Linked DNA regions of Homo sapiens: region 1 is linked to region 2. Evidence: fine-mapped expression QTL. A gene starts in region 2. The other region holds a variant in brackets. All regions are shown on one strand. Distances are between the middles of the regions. Region 1 overlaps LINC01508 (long intergenic non-protein coding RNA 1508). Region 2 holds the start of DIRAS2 (DIRAS family GTPase 2).

Region 1 (2,916 bases), 300 kb before region 2:
ACCTCAGCCTCCCCAGTAGTTGGGATTAAGGTGCCTGCCACCATGCCTGGCTAATTTTTGTATTTTTAGTAGAGATGAGGTTTTATCATGTTGGCCAGGCTGGTCTTGAACTCCTGGCCTCAGGTGGTTCACCCGCCTCAGCCTCCCAAAGTGCTGGGATCACAGCCATGAGCCACCGCACCTGGCCCAACTCATTTTCTAAACATCGGAAACCAGGCCAGCTGCAGCCTCCTTCCCAGGATGACAATGGGGTAGTAGTGTAGAGAGATGCCATTTTAATTCATTGACTTTCAATCAAGTCATTAGTATTTGCTTTCAGTCCAATTTCTCAACTCAGCCTTCCGTGAGCCTAAGCCAAACCCCTGACCATTTCAAAGGATCTACAGGCCTAATTAGCTTAAGTGTCATTACTAAGCTTCTCTGCAGACACTAGCTTTTGTCTTCACTGATCATTAAACTGGTCACCAACTCTGGCTCCATTCGCCTTCGAACATCTGCCCTTAACACTCCTTTGTTGCTGTCCAATGTACTGACCTTTCTGCCTCTTTGTTCTTAGCCTTTATCTCTGTCTCTTTTACTCTTCTCTGTCCTCCCTCCAACTCCAATCAATCCAACTCCTAAGCTCCATAATACATTTTTTAAAGAAAAACAGCAGTTGTTCAACAGACTCTTATTTTTCCCAGCTGATTCATTATTTTCCATTTATGTAAAATAAAATTCTAATTTTAAATTTTAATCCATGGACAAATTCTGCTGCATCCTTTTCACTTTCTCCCCATCATCATTCATCACCAGATCCATTTGGGGAAGGACTGGCCAAGTTCTATTTTCCTAGGACAGAGCAGCTCAAGAGGATATACGGTCACTTAATTCCATCAGAGCCTCATGAATGATGCTAGTTGTTTAAATGGGTGCTTGGCTGAGTCCATCTCCCAGGCAAAGCATAAGTCAGACAAGTGGAAAGGCCACAGGGTGTGCTGCTTCTATGCAAATGATCTTTGTTCCAACCCCACAAACACTTTTTGCTGTTGTTACCATGGGTTGCTTTGAAACAATTCTGCTTTCTTTTGTTTCACTGATTCATGCTGTATCCTGCCCAGAAAACTAGTTTTGACACCTCCTACATCTTCTGATTTCTCCCACAAACAAAAGAGTCAGACTGGAAAATAAAAAGAATGTATCTGGCTAGTGAACTGAGGAATTCAAAGAATGTTCTTTCCTTATATTCTTTCCCTACCCACTGTGGAGATATTACTGTCCTCACTCGGTTATTAAGAAATTCAATGGAAAAGTATGAGGTCAGTTATATTTCCTTCTTAGAGATGAC[T/C]GAGATTTTAGCTAAAAGGATCAAGGAATTTTTATTTTTATTTATTTAATCTTTCCAATTCAGTAACTTCATGGGGATACGACTTAGTGTTGATCATCCAGATCTATTGTTACTTTTAAATAACCCAGACTGTAGTGATTTTTTTTTAACTAAAGAAATCGTAGTTTATTTTTAAAACAAGGAATATATTTTCTGTTTCTTCATTCTGAAAACACTAGTTATATGGAACTGGCTTTTTTTTTTTTTTTTTTTTTTTTTTTTTTGCCAGACTCACATATCAATCAACTTCTCTGCAATATTTTCTCTCTTCGTTTTTTCCCACTTTCTAGTTCTTCCTCTGCAATTCACCTAAGTCTAGTCTCCCTGACCCTGACTGAGTCTTCAGGGCAATTCATTTCTGTAATGCTTTCAGTTTTATTTTACATTTCTTTCTCCCAGCTTGCATATTATCTTCAATTGCCCACATTTTCTTTTTTGATTTTAAATCTTTGTCATATTTTTTCACACAGTTCATGTTTACTTTAATTGCCTAAAGGGAAGGGATATTTATTTCAAAATCTCTGTTTCCTATTGTGATTCTTCAGAATCATATTCTACTTTTTTTTTTTTGTTTTTTTGAGATGGAGTCTCGCTGTCACCCAGGCTGGAGTATAGTGGCACGATCTCAGCTCACTGCAACCTCCGCCTCCTGGGTTCAAGTGATTCTCCTGCGTCAGCCTCCTGAGTAGCTGGGATTACAGGTGCCCGCCACCATGTGCAGCTAATTTTTGTATTTTCAGTAGAGATGGGGTTTGACCATGTTGGTCAGGCTGGTCTCAAACTCCTGACCTCATGATCTTCCCGCCTTGGCCTCCCAAAGTGCTAGGTTTACAGGCGAGAGCCACTGTGCCAGGCTTCTACTATTGTTTTTTACACCTTTCTTTCTTTCTTGTGTGTGTTTGTATGTGTTGTGTTTACACTGGTACATGTTTACACTGGTTTACACAAGGTCACTGTGTGCCTGCCTTTGCTTCTCTGACATTGGCCGTTTGTCTCTAAGGTAATCATGTGTGGTAGCGATGGGGAGGGAGACAAAATGAACAGAATCAGTGGCGACTTCGGTTGTGCTAGATTCATTTTTCTCCCCATGTGATGCGAGCACAGCCCAGGGCACTCACTCCGCCTCACAATTCCCATCCATGCTTGGCAGTGAGATGAGACTGACACGATCCATAGTCATACCCCTCCAGCCCAGGTCTCTGTTGGGTGACTGAGTACTTACTTTTTCTGCTTGTCTGATTCTAAATAGCAGCATGTACTTGTATCCATTTGATTTCTTCCCCTCTTCTTTTCACCACTGTTTAATCCACTTCTACAGGTAAGGAAGTCAGGTCACAGGAAGTTAAAATGTTGCTTATCTGCAGAATTTATAATTGTGACCCCATTTCCTCTGCCATTCTGTGGTATTTAGCTCAATACTTAGGGGGATGTTCTCAGGCCCCCCACTCATGTTGCTGTATCTCACTGTATTCAGGAAGGACTGCTGTTTGAGGCTTACCTGGTAGTGTAACATATGTGTGTATATATGCTGCATCCTGCTCACATTTTGG
Region 2 (2,916 bases):
CCTTTCCCTGTGCTTGCCCGGGACTATTACCAAATTAAATGCCATATGTTAAATGGGATGAAAATGTTTCCTTGCCACTGTATCTTTTATTTCTATAAAATGAACTATGTGTCTTCCTGTCCCCAGCCCACAAAGCCTCCTGCATTTCCAGAGATAGATAAAATTGTGGACAATTTTCAATTTCAGACAACAACCAAGAAGAAAAAAAAGTATGATTCCCCTACAAATTTGTTAAATTTATTCTAATTTTATCCTCCCCTTTTCTCTCCCTCCCCCTCCACCTCCTCAAATCCAAATGTCACTGGAAATGGAGCACATTGTGACTGATTTGAAATGTAAAATGCTCCAGACTTTTAGCGTTACCTGGAAAATCTTCCTCAAAAATAATATTTTTGAAAATTTTTAGTTTGAAGCAGAAAAGTTCTGATATGCTGGACTAGCTTCTCACATCTGAAGGGATCCATTTAAAAGATAACGAGGGCAAATATGTAAAATAAATTCCTAGGGAAGGCAAGCTGTGTCTCTGCACAGTAGGAAGAAACTGAATTCCACCACAATGTTGTATTCCAGCATTCAATGGATGTAACAGATGATTCACAGAGCTTCTAGTTTAAAAGTCTCCCAAACCCACATAGAATGTGAATTGGAGTTTTAAAGAGGAAAAACAGCATTTTTCAAGAGAGAAGGAGAGAGGCAGGTTCCCACAACGCCAGAAGCCAGCACTGCTTTTCAGGCGAGCCTGGGAGCTGTCAGCAGTCATTGTCATCTGATGGGAAACCACAGTCTTACAACTAAGGACTGGATGCAGCCCCTTGCCCATCTTCTGCTCTTACAACAAGGAAGCGGAAAGGAGCACATGTAGATATCATGAAACACATTCTTTAAGAAGACAAACAAAAGATTTAGACAGGTCTCGGCCAAGCGCATGAAGTGAAGGAGTCGAGGATGAAAGCATGCCGAACCAAACGGCAGTCCCTAGCGTGCTTGGCTTTTTTCTCACTTTAGACCACATCTTCTTACTCTTTTCCTAAATCCATTAAACTTCCACATTAACAGAAACACCTGCACAGTAGAATTTTCCAAAACGGTAAATCCTGTTTTGGAAGGAATCCCTAATAATACGTAAGATACAGATTTTTAAAAAAGAACATGTTTTAGACAAGGACAGCATGATGCTCACCCTCCCTAACAAGGATACAGAAATGCAGATTTCTTCCCCTCTTACCAACTCCAGTACACGCTGACTCGCCCTCCCTGAGAGCGGTAATCCCTTTCCAGGGGCTGGCAAACAATCATGCCAAAGCCGCCCGTGCCCCAATGCGGACGCAGCGAAGCCACGGCAGAAGGGGGAAATCGGTTACCTGGGGAAGAACACAACTCCGCTCAGAGCTTCTTCAGAGCTCCACTCGCGCAGGACAGGGCAGCGCAGGGTGTGTGGATGCGGCTCCTCCCGGAGGCAGGCGCAGCGCACTCCCTCCCGCCGCCGTGACGATGCTGTCAGCTGCTCGCCCGCCGTGCGCCCTGCACCGCCCACCGGCCGTGCTCCCTGCGCCCAGCGCCCTCGCGCTCCACCCGCTCGCAGCCCCTGCACCTGCGCTGGCCTGAGCCGCTCCGGCCTGGCACTGTCACCGCCGCTGCACGCTCCTCCTACTCTCTTCAATCTCTGCCTTCTCAGATGTGCCAACTGCTGCAGAGGCTGCTGCTCCTGCTTAAATGGCGCCTGTTCGCCTCCAAAGAGCTTTTAGGTGCCACCTACTGCATGCTCTTGGAATAGATGGCGAGGACTGGAATTTTCTGATAATTTAATGAATTAAAATAATTCCATTGAAAGGGAACCAGATTCTTTTGTTCGCATTGCGAACTATAATCGCTACTAACCATATAGACTTTTTTTTTCCATTTCCAGATTTTAACTTTTAAAAACCGACTCATTTAAAGGCAGACGAAATGCCCTGCCCCATACCATAGCCAACCACACAGTGTAGATTAATATATTCTAATTTAATAGGATCCTATGACAACACCGCCATTGGCAAGCTTGGATTAGAATTGCTTTTTCACTGAGTGGTTTCACATTAGCATTTCAAGCAAATGACCACGTTTATTTCCTGACATTGATAAACAATTTTGTCAAAGACGCGTTGATTAAAAAACAGGTGAATCAGCAAGAAAAAATATTAATGGCTAACAATTCTGTGCAGGCATTTTTAAAAGTGCTTGAGCATAACATTGATCCATGTTAAGTTTAAACTACAGACTGAAGGAAGATTTCTTCTCTTGGTTATATTACTCATTCTTTTGTAATACCAAATATGCTAAAAGACTTGAGCAAAATTAATATTCTGTAGTTCTTTACATTTGATTTTTGTTGTAGAATCCTATTTATCTGTTTTAATCCCGTCTTCACTTTCTAAATAATTAAAACATGTTAACCTTTGAAGTTCATTTCCATAGTAAAATTCTGCCCTGCTATTCACAGGAAATATGCTTTTTAAAAATCATACTTAAAAACTACGCATTTTACAACTTATAGTCAAGAAAACTTATTTTATTCCCCAGTTCATCCTAATTCTGGCCTTGATCCTACAGCCATTGGAATATAAAAATAAAAATACACTCTTTTTACTAAAGTCATTTAAGGCTACTTCAACAAACCTGCCCCTACACTAATGATGTCTAAAAGCAGAGTGGTCACCCTGTCCTCCACAGTCTCCTCTTCATTGCAAAGGAATATATGGCCACTCAGAAACCCATCCCAGAGGAGGCTCCAAATATGATGACAGTGGATTCTGAGCACTGCCTGATGCAGTTTCTGGGTCCTGAAACAACCTTCCAGTTTTATAAGTCAGGATGTTGTTTTCCATGACAACCAAAATGTAGGTTATCAGGTTAAATGACAAAATGGAATTTAAGAAC

Evidence for each region. PIP is the estimated chance that this variant, and not a neighbour inherited with it, causes the effect. A credible set is the group of variants that fine-mapping cannot tell apart.
Region 1: its variant is the best candidate, but not a certain one, in a credible set for the expression of DIRAS2 in tibial nerve (GTEx, PIP 0.56).

The regions. Positions count from the first base shown.
Region 1 is chr9:90,343,113-90,346,028 of GRCh38, forward strand. All of the region lies in intron 2 of LINC01508 (long intergenic non-protein coding RNA 1508), which reads right to left. Among named protein-coding and RNA genes, the nearest start is that of LINC01508, 89 kb to the right of the region's middle. The variant T/C (reference allele first, on the strand shown) is at 1,328.
Region 2 is chr9:90,641,391-90,644,306 of GRCh38, forward strand. It overlaps DIRAS2 (DIRAS family GTPase 2), which reads right to left and starts at 1,434. Exons shown (of 2, transcript NM_017594.5): 1 at 1,362-1,434. RefSeq lists a silencer at 1,373-1,422.